2 separate regions of the Homo sapiens genome follow, and region 1 is linked to region 2. Evidence: fine-mapped expression QTL. A gene starts in region 2. The other region holds a variant in brackets. All regions are shown on one strand. Distances are between the middles of the regions.

The links.
Region 1: its variant is fine-mapped to the expression of LYG1 in sun-exposed skin (GTEx, PIP 0.98).

What each region holds. Positions count from the first base shown.
Region 1 is chr2:98,474,967-98,485,704 of GRCh38, forward strand. All of the region lies in intron 1 of INPP4A (inositol polyphosphate-4-phosphatase type I A), which reads left to right. Among named protein-coding and RNA genes, the nearest start is that of INPP4A, 35 kb to the left of the region's middle. RefSeq lists an enhancer at 8,263-8,382. The variant C/T (reference allele first, on the strand shown) is at 4,704.
Region 2 is chr2:99,294,987-99,305,724 of GRCh38, forward strand. It overlaps LYG1 (lysozyme g1), which reads right to left and starts at 6,211. Exons shown (of 7, transcript NM_174898.3): 1 at 6,064-6,211; 2 at 3,473-3,563; 3 at 642-716. The coding sequence starts at 684. All of the region lies in intron 1 of LOC107985923 (a long non-coding RNA gene), which reads left to right.

The sequences.
Region 1 (10,738 bases), 820 kb before region 2:
GACAAGGGTGTACACTGTATCAGAAGTTTTTTTTCTTTGTGGCAACAGAAAGGGCCATGTCACAATAAGCAGAGGGTATTTATTTCTGTCTGGAAGTGGGTGAAACTTTACAGGGAAATTGCTGTTTAAATTGGTCATGTAGCATGAGTACAAATTGTCAAGCAGACAAGAACAGGAGGGGCACTCTTAAGTGGAGCGGACAGCTGAGCAAAGGCATAGAGAGGGCACTTGTGAGATGCTGTCGGGAGCAGCTTGTGAGTGTGGTACTTAGGAAGCTTGGGAGACAGAGGAGGGCCAGGAGATCCATCCTGGGTGCAACTTCATGCTGCATTCTGTGTGTGCCGAGAGCCACAGAGGGGATTTAAGCCAGGGAGTTATTAGCCCATTAGATTTACAAATTAAGAGAGACCTCTAAAACCCCATGGGCGGTGTTTCAAGTTCTGAGGTCATCTTTCTTTCTCAGCTATTTAAATTTGTCTCTTGACCAACCAGGATGACAGATGAGGTAGGAGAGGGAGCATAAGCCTTGGAGGAAAGCAAAACTATGGGTAACACAGAAGTAGTCAGAATATAGTGCAAAATACATTTAATCTGGCTGAAATTACTTGTAAAATTTAGCAGGACATTGAACATTTACAGATACTTTGTTTTTTTGCTTTAGGCGTCAGTATTACATTGCATGACCAACAATGGTTGTAGTCTCCTGCTGTTTGCTGGGGCATGCTGGGCTGTGTGGGCAGGGCTGGGGTTCAGCCACCCTCTCCCTTCTACCTGCTTTTCTCACCTGGGGTGGGGGCTTTGGGAGGAGGGGAGCAGTACTACCCATAGTGGGCAGGGATGGGCCTCTGGGGCGGGGGGAGCCTGTGTGTCCACCTTGCCTGCCACTAATTTTAAATAACAGTGTGGAATGCTGTTATAATGGTTTTTATTTTAAATTTTTTTCCACAAATGCACTATCTTCTCATTTTTTTATCAAGGCTAATCTACAAATGTTTAATCCACCCACAGGTAATCCAGATTTGATGCAGAATTTTACTGAAATCAACTCCAAATAGCTTTGTGGTAACAAGTCTTTGCAATGTGATTTTGCCTATGTTTTTCTCCTTAATGAGTCAGACTTGCCACATGAAATTTTTACCATCCCAAAACTTTTTGAAGAATTTAATTAGAATGGGTACATAGGATAATGAAGATTCACATTGTAGAAACTTTTAAAATTTGAGTTTCGATTGTTCCTGGAATTTTAATTTCTCTTATTTGGTGCTAGGTGATTCCCAGTTTTAGGGCCAGGTGTTGCCAGGACACACAAGCCAGTGATAGTTTGACTAAGCTTTAGGGTTGTATATTAAAGTAATGCCTGGCTGGATGCCCAGTCAAACTAAGACATGCTAAGCTCCACATTTGAGCAGTAATGGCCCTGTTTGCTGTCCCTCGGGAGGGTTCACACCCAGGAGCTCAGAGCAGGGACTTTCTCCTCCAGGGTGGGCCCCTCGCTCTGGGGAAGAGCTCTCCTTCACCAAGCCCCCTTTAGGTATCTGGTCTCCAGCCACAGTCAGGGAGGCTCTCAGCTGGGGTGCTGGGACCCAGCCCTGGGGTGTGTGTGGGGAGGAGCCCTGCTTGGGGGAGGGGTGGCGCTCCTGGAGACCTCTCCTGGCTCAGAGGGGAGTGATGGGCATTCTGAAGCGTGTCCAGCAGGGCCCACCTCCCTCTGCGCTCATGGTTTCCACAGTGGTTTGCCTCATTCACCATCACCTGAGAATGGCCAAGATAGCCTTGCCTCCCTTCCTGTCTTCCAGAAATTCTCATGGGGCCCTCCAGCCCGTTCTCTTCCTGGCCTGTGACGATAGCGGGTTAAGTTTGTACTTTTAACAGTAATTAACCTTCTTCAAGGCCTTGTTTGCCGTTATAAGTGTTCCCTGTTCTCTGGGTACTCACAGCCCCTTCCTTGCTGTCCTTGATCCAGCGGCATGGCCTGAGTGCCTCCATCCCCCTGTTTCTGGATGGCTAGAAGAGCCTCTGGGGTATCTGATTGTCAGATGGGCTTAGCAGGAGTGGTAGTAGTAATAGTGGCAAATACTTAAGTAGCATTTTTGTGCACTGGGCACATTTAGAGGGATTAAGTCATCTGATTCTTGCAGTAACCCCATGAAGTAGATGATTCTGTAACACCCATTTCAGGAGCAGGAGACTGAGGAGCAGAAGGTGAAATGAGTTCTCCCTGGGGACGTGTAGCGTGGCGGGTGAGCGGCAGTTGGGGTTGGAGCCCGGATGGTCTGGCTCTGGGGCCATGCACAGCATGCTGTGTGCAGCTCCCCCGCCGTCCCGTCTCCCTGAGCTGCCTGCTTCAGGCACGCTTCTTGGCTCTTTGTCCTGAATGGTGTGGTGGTACAGCTTGGTCTTCCTGCCTGGTAGGGAAACCATAGCCATGGGAGTCCTAGTACTGAGCAAGTGACTGTTCCTGACCCGTTTCCAGATTCTAGGGGCAGCTTTACAGCCTTTCTCTGAGATACTTGGACACCATGTTACCAGACCACAGCCTAACAACAGAGGATGAACCAGAGCCTCAATGTCGGCGAGTCTTGGGCCATTTTGGCTGTTGATTGCCTCTCTCCTGCCCTGTATCTCCAGGAACTGTCAACGTTGGTCTTGTAGAAACTGCTCTCTCTTTGTGAGTGAACAAGACCATGGCTGTCTCAGTCCCTCCGTTAGTGACTATCCTTGTTCAACCCAGAGTCCAGGAGTCTGATGAACAGAGGCTTTCTCCCTCTACCTCACCCTGCCTTTTACCTCTCCCTGCCCTGTGTGGGTCTTGCCCAGGAGACAGCGGTTGGATGAGGGAGGAGAGGCTAAGGGCCCCTCTAATGTGGACAGCCTGGGCCCTGCTGTGGGAAGAGAGCCACATGGCATGGATTGGAAATGGAGAGGGCAGAATTTGAGTCAGGAGGACCACCAGCAGCCGTGCTAGCTCTTGAGGCCTAGGTCTTCTGGCCTTTAAAATGGGACTGGAGTGGGAGGTGGATTCAGTGCGAGTGCAGTCCCTGCGGCCTACAACCTACTGTTATTGTGCGGTGCTGGTCTCCAAACTCCAGGTCTATTTTGTAGCCTATTGAGGAACTGCCTCTGATCTCCCTAAAATAGGATGTGCTATTTTGGACACTGCCGTAGGTGGGAGGGATGTGTGTTTAAAGCTAAAATAGAGCGCACTTTAATTTGCGGGTGTTTCCTTTTTCTTTCTCAGCCACACTGTGTTTAAGTCACAGTGTCCTCCCTCCCACCCAGGAGCACAGCCTCAGGCAGGCCCTGCTCTTGGTGGAGGCCTCGTCATGACTGATGAGGGAGGTGGCCACCAGAGAGGAGGATTCCTGTCGCTTGGGACCAGGACTGCTCCAAGTCCAGGGAGCTTTTACAAGGCTCTGTTCCTGGATGGCTTCTCTGCCGATCTGAGGTCCAGGGTGTGAGAAGCTGAGCCAGCCTTGCAGTCCAGCTGAGTGCCTCTCCACCAGACCTGCGCTGCTGTTAGAGTCAAGGCGAGGCAGGGCTGTGGGGGTAGGGGTGGCAGAGCACACCCCTGATCCCTAGTTAGTGGAGTTAACTCTGGGCACTCCCTCCCCCGACTTTCTTTGCAACAAATCATGGTGATCTCTTTTGACCTTTTTGATGGTTACCAATGTGGCTGTGAAGAGGGTCCCTGCCCCAGCTGGGGAGAATAGGGTGAATGGGAGTAGGAAGGTTGAGGGGGTGAGGGTAGAAGGGTGTGATGGATTTCCGAGAAGGTTGCAGGTATGTGTCTGTCCTATTCTGTCCTGACTTACTCTGCATTCAGTTCTAGCTGAGCATGAATGCAGCCCGCACCCATGACTTTCTGTGGTGGTGCTATTTTTCTGTTTTTTGAAAAGAAAGAGGTCCGGTTTTTTTGTAGATTGTTAGGACTTAACTGGAAATAATTGTGTAAGTCTTCAGGCATCTTTCGAAGATGGCAGGCTAGAGATAGCTACTCCAACTTGAATGCCTAGCAGTCACCTAGAAGACTTGTTCAATGCAGATACTGGGCCCTACCCACAGGGAGTCAGCCTTCATAGGTCGGGCACTTCCTCCCGGCTCCTGGGTGGTACTGCTACTGCCAGTTCACAGACCACACTTCCAGTTGCCCTAGAGTGCTTGTTCCTGTTCCACTCCCCACTCAAGATATTATTCGCTGATTTTTATCACCTTCCCCAAACTAGGCTACTTATTTTGGTGCTAATTGGTGGCACTTCTAATTTTAGAAGTGTGGGGAGGTGCTCCTGTCCCCATTTGGCTGCAGTGGTGCTGATGGGGGGTATCTGCTGTGCCTTGGGTGGGAACTTCTCCTGTGTGTGCTTCGTGAGATATCCCGAGGCTACCCTACTTTGATGAGTTGAGCAAGGTGTCTTAGAAGCCAGGCGCTGACTGCTCTATCATAATTAGAAGACAGTTAGCAATAAATACATAGTCAGTGGCATCTCTGCATGGGGATGGCTGGTTTGAAGCAGCTTGCTCCAGCCATGGGAAACAGAGTTTTGACCCTACTATTTATGAACTGACAGTGTGGGCTGCATCAGGATCTTTCCAGGTATGCCAGGAGGCACAGAACCCACGTATAACCTGCAGCCCACAGTTTCTGTGACACAGAAAGTGTGGTCAGGTGCTGGGAAATCATTGTCTCATAGATAAAACATCTGACA[C/T]GCACCAGCTTTTCTGAAACAACTAATGGTTGCAAATGGAATTCGGGGTACACAGGATAGCAACAGATTTCTTCCTGTCCTTGAAGAAAACTGTCTCCTTTGTCCCTGTTTGACCAACTTCGATTGAGCTGGAGCCCTTTGTGCCTGGCCCTGGGCTGTCCCTTCTGTCAGGGTCTCTGTCTGGTACAGGGGTCAGCTCTCCCTTGGGCTGTGCACTTACCTAAAACTGCCTCCCAGACACCTAGTTTGTGACTTCCTAGAAAGCCTGAGACAGGAAGCTATTTTCTTAAGGCTTTAGAAACTGCCCCCAAACAGCACAGAATGGCAGGGTCCTGCCCCCAGGGAGTGCTGCTTGAGGTCTGTTTCCTGCAGTCAGGGCTTCCAGCCAGCTTGCTGTCCTTGCCAGCACCTCCTCTGCTGCCCGCTAGACACGGAGCCTCTGGCTGACACCCTCCCTGCCAGCCCCAGAGGCCTGCCTTCTCAGCCTCTGCTGAAACTAAAGCTTTTTTTCTGTTTCTGTAGGGCATTGGGTGGAGCCTTGCCAGGGGCTCCTGGTTCTGACTGTCTTGGGTGGGTGGGGAACTCAGCCCTGAGAGGTTGGCTCACTGAGCATTTACCATATGCTGGGCATTGGGCCAGATGTCTGTCTAGGATCAGTTTATTAATCCCCAGCTACCTGATGAGGTAATTATTATTCATTTCCATTTTGCAGAGGAGGGAAGGGATGCTCAGAGAGAGGTGGAGTGACTTACCAGATTTTTATCTGGTGCCCTATCATATGCTCTTACGACACAGAGCAGCTTTTTGCTGTAGAAAGGACTGTCGTCATTTTACCTGTGTTAGGAACATCATCACTGACTGTGGTTCCCCTGCACTGACATTCTGGGCATTAAGGGCTGAGTCTGGGCTCTTTCTCCTATGGGTGTCTGTCCTCTCACTTGGCCCCAGGCCTTGGTGACCCTCTGTGCACTGAAGGAGTAAATGACTGAGGTGGCCAGCTAGCTCCCGTGCATTTGCACACATGGTCCCTCACTCCTGGCCCCCATCCCTTGCCAGGCAGAATGTGCCCGTCTCCAGTCCCTTGCATTGCTGGCAGCCTCAGACCGGAGAGCACTGAATCTTCCACTAGCCTGTCTTCTTGCCAGCTGCAGCCCCAGGGCGCGTGTGTCCGTCTCCGCAGCCAAACTCCCCCTGTGCTGGCCTGTGGAGGGTGAGTGGGGGGCAGGGTGCCGCACACTCTGGACCCTTCCAGCCCCAGGAAGGAGTTGTGGTGCTGCACGTGCTCCATTCTCACATGCTTCTCAGGCTGCAGGCTGTGCATTACCAGTGTGCAGTTTAGGAAACTGAGGCCCAAAGAGAGCAAAGCAGCACCTGGGGACTGACCTTGAGTTACACAGGTGTGCTTCAAGTTCTTCTGCTAGTTACCTTTCAATGCCAACACTGGGGAGGGGGTGTCCTAACAAAACATAATTTAATCAGAGCACTGTGAACTTTTCCTGCATCTGACACGTCCCTCTCAAGGTGGAGGGTGTCACCACCTGCTGCCCATTGTAATCCCTCACCCCACAGAGAGGCCAGGAAGTGAACAGGAGACTTGGAGGAATGTGGACCTGGTGTGATCCTGTGTGGAGCAAGGATGTCTTCCTCTGAAAATTCCCTGGGGGGAAAGAAATGGCATACATTTCCTATACCAGTGGGGGCTTGGTCCCTTGGCACGCATAAATCGACCACTCTTGGCAGCCAGAACCCTCGCTCCTCCAGTTTTATTCTGGTTGCCTGTGGCTCTTGGATAATCCTGTGGTCTCTTTGGGGTGCTGGTTTCTTTAGGGAGCTGCATTTGGCTTAAGGCTGGCATATGTTTTAGCTATCTGAAGTGGTTTTAGATATAAAGATTCAGTGACAGAATTCTCTATATAAAATGATTATATCACATTGAGCCTCAGTAACAGATTAATGGGGAAGGAAGGATTTATTATGTTTCCAAGTGATCCAATGTGAGCAAGCAGGCTTTGTACCAGGGGAGAATTCTAAGTGCTTGTCCTCCCTGTGGAATTGTGTTTTGCAGAATCCCAGGAAGACAGGGAGGCTGTGACAGCCTGTAAATGTGATGCTCAGCTGGCCTTGAGTGTCAGCTAGCTTGCTGGTCTTCAGGGTGCTCCCTGTCCACGCACCACCTCTGGCTGGGCTTTCCGTTCTCTAGTGAAAGGTTTTCTCAGCAGCACCTTTGCCTCTCCTTCTCCCTTCATTACGAGTTTGCCATGTTGGAGTTGGATTGTTTGATGTCTTGTCCTGGCTTAACAACTCAACACTGTGTACTTTAAAAGCTCCAAGTTTAGGCTCACACCTGTAATCCCAGTTTTTTGGGAAGCTGCAGTGGGAGGATCACTTGAGGCAAGGAGTTTGAGACCAGTTTAGTTGACAGAGTAAGATCCTGTCTTTAAAATAAATATAATTTTTTAAACTTGAAATTTAAGCAGAAGCCACGTTAAAGTGGCACAGCAGGTGATGTGAGGGACCCTGTTGGGCCACCTTGCTGTAAAATGTTTTCTGTATCCTGCTTTTTTCCTCTTTGCCTTTACACCTGTGGTTCCCACATTATTGGGCTGAGACTCTGGAGATCTGGGTAAAATCCCATCCTAGAGGGACAGCAGGTTAAATCACTTTTCCTATCTTGGCCAGCTGTGGTTTAGCTTATTGGCACCAGTCAGAGCAGGGCCTCAAGGGATGTTAGGATTGGTTGCACCTGGTTCAGAATATGGGGCCCTGCAAGGAGGGCAGTCTGAAGAAGAGTGGGATTAAAAACGAAAGCAGCCAACAGAAAGGTGGGCACCTAGAGGCAGGTGCAACTGGCTGTCCTGGAAAGCAGAGAGGGGCAGCTGTGGGCCTCTGTGCAATGGCCCCTCCACTTGTCACACCTGCCAGAATGGAGGTGTCTCCCCAGTGGGCCTGTCACAGGGAGGCCAGCGACCAGCCAGTCAGTGCTGACAGTAGGCAAGTGTGGTTGACATCCAGGGATGAGCCTCTGAGCAACCCTGGGATGTGATGCAAAAAGATATATGTGTCCTCTTGCATTTAAGAGAAATGCAAAGCTTTTGATCTAAGCTTACACTTGAAAAAATTATACTTACATTGCTTTTTTGAAAATAAGTGAAAGCATAATAGAGGTTGAACATCCCTGATCTGAAAATCCAAAATTTGAAGTACTTCCAAACCTGACACTTTTTTAGCACTGACATGACCTTCAGAGGAAATGCTTATTGGAGCATTTTGGATTTCAGATTTTTGGATTAGGTGTGCTGAATCTGTACGTATATAATGCAAATATTTCAAAATCTTAAAAAAATTCCAAACCCTAACCACTTCTGGTGTCAAGTATTTCAGATAAGGGATACTCAACCTGTGCTAATAATGATTTTGGCATGTACTCTATAATAATAAAATGTTTATTAGGCAGTCCTTTATGTGAAAAATGATAGGAATAACAATACAGTGAATCGCAACTCAGCTTTAGACATTTTCATGACCAATACACTTGAAACTACATATGCCTTCCCACCTTCTCTCTAGGTTACCATTACCCCAAATTTGCTTTTCATTTTTTCCATTCATCGAATTCTTTGTGTTTTGTGACCCAGTCAGTCCTACTAGTTTTCGTGCTAGGAGACAGGAAGCAAGCATTGCTTAGTTTCACTCTTGTGATGCTTGTGGTCAGAAACAGGTATTTCTTGAAACTGGGCTTGTGGCTGCAGGGCTGCCCCAGGCGGGGCAGAGATGGTCAAGTGCAAGGTGGGGCTGCTGTGGGGCCAAGTCCTGATGGATCATGTTCCCCCCCGGTCTTGTCTTTCTAATGTCTTGCTGCATGTGGGATCTGTCGCCACTGCCAGTGGGAAGGGCAGGCTAGTCTGTGTCCATCTTTGTTGCAGAGTTGGCTTCCTTCAGGCAGGTTCATCCTACACTGAATGTCCCTGTGGTCCATGCCTCAAAACACCTCATCATTAGTATTACTTCTGAGCCCTGCCTAAACATAGCAGCGTGGACCAGCTCTCAGTCCTTTCTCTTCCTGTCCCTACCCCACCTTCCTGTTGGCTACTCTGCTCCCATGGATGGTTGAGAGGGAGACCCTCTTCTGTGTGGCTAGCCAAGGTTGCACATTGGCTGCACCCAACAGATGGACTGCATCTGTAGTCAGTCTAGTGAAGTCCGGTCTTCCTCTCCACCCTCTTGCCTGAGCCTCCACCTTTGCATAAAGAAGCTCCTGCACCCCCATCCCTCCTTGCAGATGCCCCTGCCCACACCCCATCTCTTCACATAACTGAAAGATGGCTGGTTCTCCCAGAAGAGCCAGAGGCCTCTAAATGGAGTGAGGTCCTTTCTCTGCATGTCCTGTCTCTCTCCAGAGGTGGGCTTGGAATCTCTTTCGCTTTGACCGGTGACTACCATCCCCTCCACTCCTGTCCCTCCCCTGCATCACTCCATGTTACCCCTGGCCCCAGAGGTCTCTGAGGTCCCATCACCTTCTGATGACTCTGTCTGCAGGGATGAGTCTGTTGTTACTGAGCCGCTAGCCTTCAGCTTCCTCTCCCATGGTCATTCCCGAGGCTGCCCACTCCCCCTAGTTGCCCACAAGCCTTATGAACTCCCATCTCCGTTCCTCCTGTGTGGCCTGTTCTGGTTCCCTCTCCTCCCTGTCAGGCTCACTGTATCTTTGTTTCCCATGATCCTGCAGTCAGGGAAGACCAAGCCCCAGTTACTTTCCTGATGAGCTCAAAGTCCAGAATGCAGTCACGTGACTGGGGTGGGAAGCCATGCACAGGGCCCTGAGAGGGTGTGAGGGATTCGAGGCAGCCTGTGGAAGGAGAGCCCTTCCAGCTGAGATGAATTCAGCCCCAGAGAGGCACTAAACAACCTAAGGATGGTACAGTTCCCCAGTTATTAAAATTTTGCATACTTACTATAAAGGGTTTAGTAAAACATAGTCTAGAGGAAGAAAACCAGAAAAGCATGATGTGTCCATCTCCCAGTGCTTAACATTTTTATACGTGTTCTTTTCCTCTCTCCCACTCCGCGTGAGTGCTTCTATGTCTTTATATTGGTAGATCTTACTTAGAATCTGACTTTTTCGCTTGTCAAGTTGTCATAAAACTGATTTCCATTTCAAATGTCTATATGGTATTCACATATGACGGAGCCATTATTTACCATTTCCCTGACAGGCTTGTAGGCTGCTATTTAATCTTTCAATTTATGGTATAAAATCCTTTATAGTACAGGTAATGCTGCAGTGAGCATCCTTGTCTGAGATCCCACCGAGAGTAGTGGCTTCAGTCTTCCAATCAGTGGCTTTTCTCTCACTTGGCTGGCCTCTTGAAGCGAACAGAGTGTGTGTGTGTCCTGGTAGCTGAGTAAACTCCAGCTCCGCACATCTGCTTGGCGGGGCGGTTGGGATCTAAATGAGTGTGACCTCAGCTTTTGTGGTAGTGGAGACCATCCTGATCATGCAGGGTCCTTGCTGCTTGCAGGCCCGTGGCTGCTGAAGAGCTGAAGAAATGTTACTTCTTTGTAAGAAACATTTTAGACTGAAATAAAAACCTGTTATAATCATGCGGTCTGGTTGCAGCGTGAAATATGTTCACAGTCTAAGATTCAGGTGAAAAGGCAGGATGCCAAATCTTGTGTACTTGCTGATCTTATCTGTGTAGAATATCCAAGTCAGAACTGATTTTAGTTAAGGTATCTGTGGGGGGTGGGGTTTCCCTCTCTATATTTTCCAAGCCTGCAGTAAGAGAACTATGGCAATCATCTTTCTTTTTAACATATCCAGCTTACTGCCCTAGGTTGGCCACAGTCAGATTTCTTGAAAGCCCCTAGGGCTGGGCGCAGGTGTCTGGTTGTCCCTCCGAGACTCAGGGCTCACTCTCGCTTCGGGAACACTAATGCAACTCTTCTGGTGGTGAGAACCCAGCTGAGAGTTCCTTTATTTTGTTGATTTCAGGGTGTAGGTATTTAAATATTTGAAAGTATTTTGATTTTTAAAT
Region 2 (10,738 bases):
AGCTACTTGGGAGGCTGAGGCAGGAGAATCGCTTGAAACCGGAAGGCAGATATTCCAGTGAGCTGAGATTGCACCACTGCACTCCAGCCTGGGTGAAAGAGCAAAATTCCATCTCAAAAAAAACAAAAACAAAAGCAAACCAACAAAAACAAGTACTTTCCCTTTTTCCTCCAGCTGCAAAGCTGAAGTTCAATCACAGCAACTAAATCAGCCTCAGTGATTAGCTTAGTCATGTGTACTCGGTTGCCTTGATTCTGGTTTTCTATTTGAATTAGTCTTATTCATTAGTCTTATTCTGGCAACCACCTCAATTCTTCTATGGAAATAAATGCTTTAGGAATAAATTCAATTTGGCATTTTTTATAGTGGACAATGAGCAGCTATTGATGGTGTATATTTAAAGTCTGGCTTCAAGCAGTGCTGTTTTAAGCCCACCTTGCATTCCAGAGAACCCCAATCTTTTGTGGGACATTTGGGGAGAGGCTGATTGTTGGTGGCTGTTCCTAACTCCAGGATTTGTTGGACAGTTTAGGGAAAAAATAATCTTTTTTGTTGCATTTTCAAGTATTAGAAGTGCCATTGTGTTCCTGTGCTTATCCTTCCCATCTCCAAAGTCATTTGTAAAAATCAGCCACACTCACCCATCAGGGCAAGGAGGCCCAGCAGCAGCCACAATGCAGACATGATGACGATCTGGCTCTACGGCTCCTGAAACACTTTTAAAACAAAAATTAGCTTGAGAATACAAAAATATCAGTCATCATCATAACCACATGTAATATTTCCACAGAAGCAGGGGTGAAAAGAACAAATTTCCCCATATCTGACCTAAGAAAATGAATTATTTGAATCATAGTGAAAAAAAAGCAAAAGTAGGACAAGTAAGTGCTCCATTCATCCTTTCAATTAATCTAAAAATGAGAAGACTCTTACTCAGCCCACAGGAACTCAACATACAGTCAAGTTACTAACTACTTTATTTCAAGAAGGCAAGACACTTTGAATCTCAACCACCAAGAAACATACTGACCTGGCTCCAGACCCTGAAAAGCAAATTTCTGATGCCCATACCTCATCCCAAGAGCCTTTTTATTATCTCCATTATCAAAAGGAGAATTTTGTATTGGTGACTTCTTGGAATTTAGGTCCCTTCTTCTTCAGGTTTGAGGAAAGACCACGCTTTCCTCAGTGCCCTGGAATGTACACTGGTTGGAAGACGTTTCCCACTGCTCTAACCCCAGCCTGGAATCACAGACCCCCTTTATCACCTTGAGCCATGTTCCCCATTCCCCCTCTGTAAAACCCCAATGCGGCAACAAACCTGGACCAGAGCCCAGGGAGAATGGAGCTACCTCCACCAGCAAATCCCCAAGAAGCTGGCTCATGGGCAGGGGTCCCAGGATTGAACTCATGAGGTGCTCACAAGACTGGAGAATGAACACGTGGCCAACATGGAGCACCCGCTCATGTGCTCTCTCTCTCTCTTATCCCAACCATTCCCCTAATCACCTTCCATGAGTACAAACAGCCCTGGTTCTCCTACTGGCTACCAAACCAATACACAAATACCACCAAGGATAGTTTGCTGTTAACCTCAGGGAATGGTAGAGTTTCTGGACCTTTGCCTCCAAAGCGCCTCCCACCAAGCCCTGCCACTCCAGGGTGTATGTCATCATTGCCCCAGTCAGCAGAGCCTGGCAGCCTAGCATTTTGAATTATTACTGTCATTACATGTAGGAATGTGCATATAAACAAGGCACTTGGTACTTTCATAATGCTTCTCTCATCTCTTTTGTTTTGAGGTTAACCTTATGGGTTGTTTCTTTCAAACACCCAGGAAGAGATCACATCTCAAGATGGAGAGGCTTTAAGGAAGTCATTTGAAGCCAGGTGTGGTGGCATACACCTGTAGTCCTAGCTACTTGGGAGGCTGAGGCAGGAGGACTGCTTGAGCCCAGAGGGTCAAGGGTGCAGTGAGCTATGATCACACCACTGCACTCCATCCTGGGAAACAGAGCAAGAGCCTGTCTCAAAAAAGAAAAAGGAAGTTATTCGATTTCTGTCTTCTTAAACTGAGGGGGCATATGCCCTTCAGTTGCAGTCATGCTTTTTGTTATTCTCTCTACAACATTGAGATGGTCTGTCCGATTTTGCTTAGTTGAGCACAAAATGTCATGGTCAGTCCCAACACCAAAAAGATTCAGGGACCTGGAATCTTAGCTGGGTCTGCAGGAACGCTCAGATTTAATCACCCAACAGGAGTCATTTATTCAGCATCCTGAGCCTCCAGCAGTAAACAAGAGAGGACAACCAATCCCAGGAGAAAAGAATGGACAAAGAGCTGCTTGGGTATAGGAAAAGCTCATGGTCTCATGAAAGTGCATCACTGGCTTTATGGAAGGACCCTTCAGGAAAAAGCACTGCTCACATTCAAATGCTCCACCCAGGGTATTTCACTCTTTTTGCTGCTTTTCCAGGAAAGAAAAAATACTTCCTCTTGGAAACCCAAGTGGAAGGACTCAGCTTTTATTGTAACAGGAGAGCTACCGTATTTTCCATGCTTGGAACTAAATATCTGTGTTGAGAAGTCACTTTAATGAAAGAGTCTATGTAAATACATGTGCCACTTAATGGGAACACAGAATTACTTTCTAGTTGCTCCTGGGACCAGGTCATCAAGGTAAAGTTTTTCAATTTCATCAGGGAAGAGCAAGAAGTGACAATGGAATTTTTCTTTTTTTTCTTAGAGCCAGAGTTTTACTCTGTCACCCAGGCTGGAGTGCAATGGCACGATCACGGCTCACTGCAGCCTTGACCTCCTGGGCTCAAGTGATACTCCCACCTTAGCCTCCCAAGTAGCTGGGGCTAGAGGTGTATGCCACCATGCCCAGATAATTTTTTAGTTTTTATGTAGAAATGGGTCTCACTATGTTGCCCAGGCTGGTCTTGAACTCCAGGCTTCAAGTGATCCTTCCACCTCAGCTTCCTGAGTAGGTAGGGTTACAGGCTCAAGCCACCACACCTAGCTTGGAATTCTTAAATGGATGAACAATGTCATTTTGTCCATAAATACAGCATATTGAAGCAACCCAAACTCTATGGCCCAACTTTACAAGTGACGAAAAGTACTCTGTGTTTAGAAGAGATTGTTGAGACATCACTCGGGTGTGCTCAAAGAGTGTCTGTCAGTTCCCTATGACTCATTTGTTAATTCCCCTGTGGCTCCCTGCTTAAAACCATTATGAAGATGTCAGACCAAGGCAGCACAGTGGTCATGATGTCAAGCACAATGTTTATGGTAGCATCCCTCTTCTCCCTTCCCAGAGAGCAAAATAGTAACAAACAGCAAGGGGGTGTCAACAAGCTGGGGCAACAGGCCTGCCAGGCACACTGGAAACTGACAACCAGAGCATCCCTCAGGAGCTACCTCATGTTCCTGGTGGCTTTGATGGGGACATCTTCCTCTACTCACCCTCTCTCCACTGAGTACTTTGGAATTCCCAAAGCACTGTGTAAGTTTGTAAGGCATAATGGACCATGTCTTCTTCAGTTCATCAATTTTTCTAGAAAAGGTAGAAACAGGTATCTTTGGTCTTATGGTTTTCTCACCTTAGAAACTTTTCCATGAATGCTCTCAATCTTTACCTTGAACAGTATCATTGCAGGTCATTGGGGCCCTCCATCCAGCCCAGAAATGTGACGTATTAACACCTCAACGTGCCCAATGAAGGTGCCCCTGCCCCATTGTGGTGTCCCCATCTAATCCTGAGAGAACTGAGAACTCCTGTATGCATCCACATTAGGCATGGTCTCCTGCTCTAAGCTGTGTTGTCACCCTTGTTTATTGCTAACATGTCTCTGTGTCTACCTACTCATTGTGTGCCAACAGGCCTTTCTTTTTTTAATTTTTTAATTTTAATTTTAATTACTTTTTGTTTTGTTGGGTTTTGCTTTGTTTTGTTTGAGACAAAGTCTCACTCTGTCGCCCAGGCTGGAGTGCAGTGGTGCGATCTCAGCTCAATGCAACCTCCGCCTCTTGAATTCAAGTGATTATCTTGCCTCAGCCTCCTGAGTAGCTGAGACTACAGGCACTCCACGCCCAGCTAATTTTTGTATTTTTAGTAGAGATGGGGTTTCACCATGTTGGCCAGGCTGGTTGAGAACTCCTGACCTCAGGTGATCCACCCACCTCAGCCTCCCAAAATGCTGGGATCATAGGCATGAGCCACCGCGCCCAGCCCCTGGGTTTTTTTCTTTTTCTTTTCTTTTTGTTTTTTCTTTTTCTTTTTCTTTTTTTCTTTTTTTTTTTTTTTTAATCGAGACAAGGTCTCACTCTGTCTCCCAGGTGGGAGTGCAGTGGCCCAAAATTGTGGAATCATCTCACCATTATAAGCCTGTAAGAATGTCTCATTAGATTACTCTTTAATTTTTAAAATTGTTTTAATTTTTTTTTTTTCAAAACATAGTCTGACTGTCACCTAGGCTGGAGTGAAGTGCTGTGATCTCGGCTCACTGCACCCTCGACCTGCCTGAGCTCAGGTGATTCTCCTGCCTCAGCCTCCTGAGTAGCTGGGATTACAGCCCTGTGCCACCACGCCCAGCTAATTTTTGTATTTTTAGTAAAGACGGGGTTTCGCCATGTTGGCCAGGCTGGTCTCAAACTCCAGGGCTCAAGCAATCTGCCTGCCTCAGCCTCCCAAAGTGCTGGGAACCACCAACACCTGGCCTGTTTTAAAATTATTTTTAATTTTTTATTATTTTAACTTTTTAATTTTTTTAATTTTTGTTTTTTTAAAATTTTTAAATATTTATTTTATTCCATTTTTAAAATGTTTAAGTTTTTAAATTTCTTAAAGGCCTTACCAGTAGCATCATGTCGTACTCATCCTCTTCTTGCTATTCTAATCTTCTCCCTCCCTACATATATACACACACACGTACACACACACACGTACACACACACACATGCACGTACAGCAACACTCCAGCCCATTGCCTCACAGATTGCTATGCACCAACAGGCCTAAAATTAAAATAGTAATAGCAATGTAGTCACAAATATAAAATAATATAAAATTATTCTGCCACTAAGATCTTTTTTTTTTTGAGAAAAATACAACTTTTTAGAGCAAAAATATAGGGCAGCAACAGGAAGGCTCATTTTAAGCTGTTACGCTGCGTAGAGCTGCACCTTCACATGGCCTGTGAAAATACCTATTCACTGAATTTGGATTGTAATCAATAATTACCAGCCTAGAAGACCTCTGAAAGTTTGATCATTTTCTTCCCTCTGGGCAGGCAAATCTTCCCTGCATAGAGACACTGTGAGCTGGAAGGGAGTTCCTTCTCTCAGTGCGTCCTCTGTGCCTGCTTTTCCCATTTGCGTTTTTGAGAGTTCAGAACTCCAGGAAGGATCATCCTATGCTGGAGATTTCCCCGTGAACGTTTCCTTCTGCACAGAGCAAATCAGGGAGACTTGGCCCCTCTGTTCCGTCTATGGACTCTAGAGGCGTATCTGTCTTTTTAGTCTGTTAGCCGAGGCTGTTAGACATGTTGGCCTTAGTTCTTACACAGCTTGCAGAGAAAATAAGATTGTTATAGAACCAATACTCATGGTCTATGGGTTAATGTAGCATTGGCAAGACTGCCCATGAGGGCAGGCAAGGGATTTACCGTCTGGCAAAATACAAACACCTTAGTCTTTTGGCTTTCAGTTAACAAATATGACGTCGCATTTGGCCCTATTACAGCTACAGTTAAGTGCACACACATTTCTTTTCTCCCATTATTCGATTTGCACATGCTCACAAATCCAAAAGTAATGACATACTTGCATTAAAAGATATCTAAATTTTGATGAGTGTTGTAATGAACAGGAAAAATTATTCTATCATCTACAAATCTTTTCAAACTTGGGTTTTCTTTGCAAGGTCCTTAAGTTTCGCCTGAGTCCAATATTTCTTATGCAGCAGAGACACAATCATTGCCAACTGATCACCATACACTGGATTTTCATCCTCAATAAGCCCGAGTGTAAGATCCATGCCTCTGCTTCACACTCACCTGTCTTCAGTCAGTGCTCCTCCTTAGAGGTGGTGAGCCCACAGCGATTTATATAGAGTCCTGTTCTCTTGTTAAAAGTGTTCATCTCATCCTATTTTGGAGAGATTTATGACATCTCATAAATTATAATAATAATCATAATTATTATAAATACTCCGAACTTATATAGGGCCTTTTATTCGAGAATGTCCTGGCATTTTGCAAACATTAACCAATTTGTTTCTTGCCATACCTCAGAAGGCAGATCCTAGTTGTAGTTTAACTTTGACACATTGAGGTCCAACACTTGTCTTTATTCACATCATTTTCTGGGAATGTGGGTTAGGTAAGAAAACAAGGAAGGAAGAGAGAGAGAAAGAGAGAGAGAGTGAGAAGGAGAGAGAGAGTGAGAAGGGGAAGGGAGGAAGGGAAGAGGAAGGGAGGAAGGGAAGGAAGAAAGAAAAGGAAGAAGGAAGGAAGGAAGGGAGGGAGGGAATTGAACTTGGTGTGTCAGAAACTCATTATTGGTTTGTATTTCAGGTAAGCAGAGCGCCTAGACCAGGGGTTGGCAGCTTTTTCTTACAGACCCAGACAGGTTTTTGGGCTACGTGGTCTTTATAATGCCTCTGACATTGTAGCATGAGAGTGATCATAGATAATATTTAAATGAATGGCCAAGACTGTGTTCCAAAAAAAAAACTTTCTTTACTACACAGGTGGTGGCCCTAGGGCCGTAGGTTGCTGGCCCCTGTTCTGAACCACCGAGAGATACCAGTTCACATGTCCTCAGTTCAGCAATGTGGGGAGAGATGATCGGCTGGATGATGCTATTTTACAGACACCCAGGACCTACAGCGTGTTCCAAATGTCTACATCAATAAGTACTTTGAGAGGGTTCATATGAAGTTTCCAGGAAGGATTCTTTCCCAAGTTGTGGAAAGGGTGCATTTCATGACTGAAAGAGGGAGCCCCCTCCCTCACCACACCCTGTGCCCCAGCTCAGCTGAACAGCTTGATTTTCCCCAAACACAGCGCCATTCTTTGCACTAGGCATTCCTACAGGATCTTTCCTTTTTATCTAAACCCTCAGGGACAGGGGCTGTGTCTCATTCGTCTTTATAATACCAGCATGCAACACTCTGCATGATACATATTAGACACTCAGTAAAACACGTGGAATCAATGGCTTGCTTATCGGCTGACTGGTATACAGTCTGTTTCTTCTGCATCCCCTGCCTTAGCTCCCTCCCCATACCACAACTCAAACACAAGCTCCGTGAGAGCTGTGAATCTGGCTACTTCATTTATAAGACTGAGTCTTCAGTGCCCAGATAACAGCCTGGCACACTGTAAGTGTTCAGTAAATCTTTGTTGAATCAGTCAATGACTGAAGAATTCCTACAACCTCACCCAGCAAGATTTGGACTGGGCTTCCAATGCTGGGCCCCAGGTTAGACGTGTGTTCCTTGTGTTTCAAGCAACATGTGGATATTTCTACCATAGCACCTACAGCACTTTGGTTTGTTGTTGTCTTGAGAACAAAAACAAAGGCTTTTTTCTCCTGTATTCCTTATGGCACATAAGGGGTATTCAGTACATGTTTACGGAATGAGTAAATGAATGATTTAAAGCGTATTTATGACTTTTTGGAAGTCACTCACTCTGCATCCCCAGTGCAGACATTGAGGGTTAAGATTTTGTTATTCTCAGCCGGGCACAGAGCCTCACGTCTGTAATCCCAGCGCTTTGGGAGGCCGAGGCAGGTGGATCACTTGAGGTCAGGAGTTCGGACCAGCCTGGCCAACATGGCGAAACCCCATCTCTACTAAAAATACAAAAATTATCCAGGCATGGTGGCACACACCAGTAATCCCAGCTACTCGGGAGGCTGAGGCAGGAGAATCAGTTGAACCAAGAGGGAGAGGTTGCAGTAAGCCAAGATCATGCCAGTGTACTCCAGCCTGGGCCACAGAGCAAGCCTCCATCTGAAAAAAAAAAAAAAGAAGATTTTGTTTTTCTCTACTTGTGACTGAGATGGTGAGACCACAAGGCAGGGCACTGTGAGCAAGGGTCCAGATTTGGACACCCAGGGAGTTCCTGAACTTTAACTCTGGGAGGGGAGTGTGAGAACACTGGGTTCCTCTCGGTTGTTGGCAGAGTTGGGGTAAAAAGAGAACTAATGCACCCATTAAAAACTCTATCCTGACCCCCAAAATGGAACTCATCCATTTTATTTTTTCCACCAAGCTCTAGCACATACCAACAATTAAAAGGTATTACAGTGTGGGGAAATCTGGGGATGCCCAGCTCCACCTACAAAAGCACCCTGTCATCAGCCCAGAGGGCCATGTTAGCATCCTGGGAGGTTCTCCTGGGCAGCAGCCAGCATGTTGCCTGGCAAAGGCTCCACAGAGACGAAATGGCTTCTCACAAACCCTGCCTCTCTATGATGACTTCCACCTCCTCACCTGCTGCACCTGGGTCCCCACCCTAAGAATCCTAGAAGCTGAGGAGGTCGTTCTCCATCCAGCCTCCGGGACACTCCGCAGGCACATGACGGTCAGATTTATGTTTTAAAAAGTGTCCCCTGGCTGCTGATTGCATTGGAGGTGAGCCAGAGTGACTCGGGAGACTTCACAGAAGACCAGAAGAGAGATGATGGTTGGACTAGAGTGACGGGGCTATGGCTTGGCTGTGTCTCCACTGAAATCTCATCTCAAATTGTAGCTTCCATAATTCCCTTGCATTGTGGGAGGGACACAGTGGGAGACAATTGAATCATGGAGGCAGTTTCCCCCATACTGTTCTCCTGGTAGTGAATAAGTCTCAAGAGATCTGATGATTTTATAAGAAGAAACCCCGGCCGGGCACGGTGGCTCACGCCTGTAATCCCAGCACTTTGGGAGGCCCAGGCAGGCGGATCACGAGCTCAAGAGATAGAGAACATCCTGGCTAACACAGTGAAACCCCGTCTCCACTAAAAATACAAAAAAATTAGCCAGGCGTGGTGGGGGCACCTGAGACTTCAGGGGATTGTTGGGAAGGCAAGATTGGTTTTGAAATGTGAGGACATGAGATTTGGGAGGGGTCAGAAGTGGAATGATATGATTTGGCTCTGTCCCCACCAAAATCTCATCTCAAATTGTAGCTTGCATAATTGCCTTGTGTTGTGGGAGGGACCCAGTGGGAGACAATTGAATCATGGAGGCAGTTTCCCCCATACTGTTCTCATGGTAGTGTATAAGTCTCATGAGATCTGATGATTTTATAAGAGGAAACCCCTTTCACTTGGCTCTCACTCTTCTCTTGTCTGCTGCCATGTGAGACATGCCTTTCACCTTCCGCCATGATTGTGAGGCCTCCCCAGACAAGTGGAACTGTGAATCTGTTAAACCTCTTGCTTTTGTAAATTGCTCAGTCTCAGGTATGTCTTTATCAGCAGCATGAAAGTGGCTAAGAGAAAAAGGAAAGATATTACAGATCTATTTTAGAGGTGGAATTGACAGGACTCAGTTTGGGACAAGACGCCAAGGATGAGAGCAAAGAAGAGGACATAAGTGCCTGGGAGGATGGTACTAAGTCTGGAATGCTGAAGATGAAAGCACATTTACCAAAGAAGATGAAGTTTTAGGCTGGGTGGAGTGGCTCACGTCTGTGGTTCCAACACTTTAGGAGGTCAAGGCACTTCAAGACCAGCCTGGGCAACATAGCAACATCCTGTCTCAATTTATGAAAAAGAAAAAGAAAGGATTATGTTTTAACTCCCATGTAACAAACCTACACGTGTACACCTCAATCTAAAAATGTTTTTAAAGAGAAAAAATAACAAATTGTGGTGTAGATATGGAGAAATGGAGCCCTTATACACTCTAGGTGGGTATATACACGAATCTAGCCATTATGGAAAACAGTATGGAGATGCCTCAAAAAATTAAAAGTAGAAGTGGCATATGACCCAGAAATCTCACTGCTGGGTATGTATCCAAAGAAAATGGATATGTCAAAGGGAAATATGCACTCCCATGTTGACTGCAGCATTATTTGTAATAGCCAAGACACAGAATCATCCTAAGTGTCCATCAACACATGAGTGGATAAAGAAAATGCAGTATATACACATAATGGAATAATATTTTGTCATTAAAAAGCATGAAATCCTGTCATTTGCAGCAACACGATCAACCTAAAGGACATTAAGTGAAATAAGGCACAGAAAGACAAAATCACCCATTTGTGAAATCTAAAAAAGTTGATCATGTGTAATGGCCAGGTGTGGTGGCTCACGCCTGTAATCCCAGCACTTTGGGAGGCCGAGGCAGGCAGATTACCTGAGTCGGGAGTTCGAGACCAGCCTGGCCAACATGGTAAAACCCCGTCTTTACTAAAAGTACAAAAATTAGCCGGACATGGTGGTGGGCACCTGTAATCCCAGCTACTCAGGAGGCTGAGGCAGGAGAATTGCTTGAACCTGGAAGGTGGAGGTTGCAGTAAGCCAAGATCCCGCCACTGCACTGGGAAACAGAGCAAGACTCCATCTCAAGAAAAAAAAAAGGCGATCTCATAGAAGTAAAGAGCAGAATAGTGGCTACTAGAGGCTGGGGAGGAATGGGGAGAGATTGGTTGCATGCAAAATTACAGCTAGATAGGAGGAGTAAGTTCTGGTGTCCTATTGCACACTGCAGTGACTATATTTAAC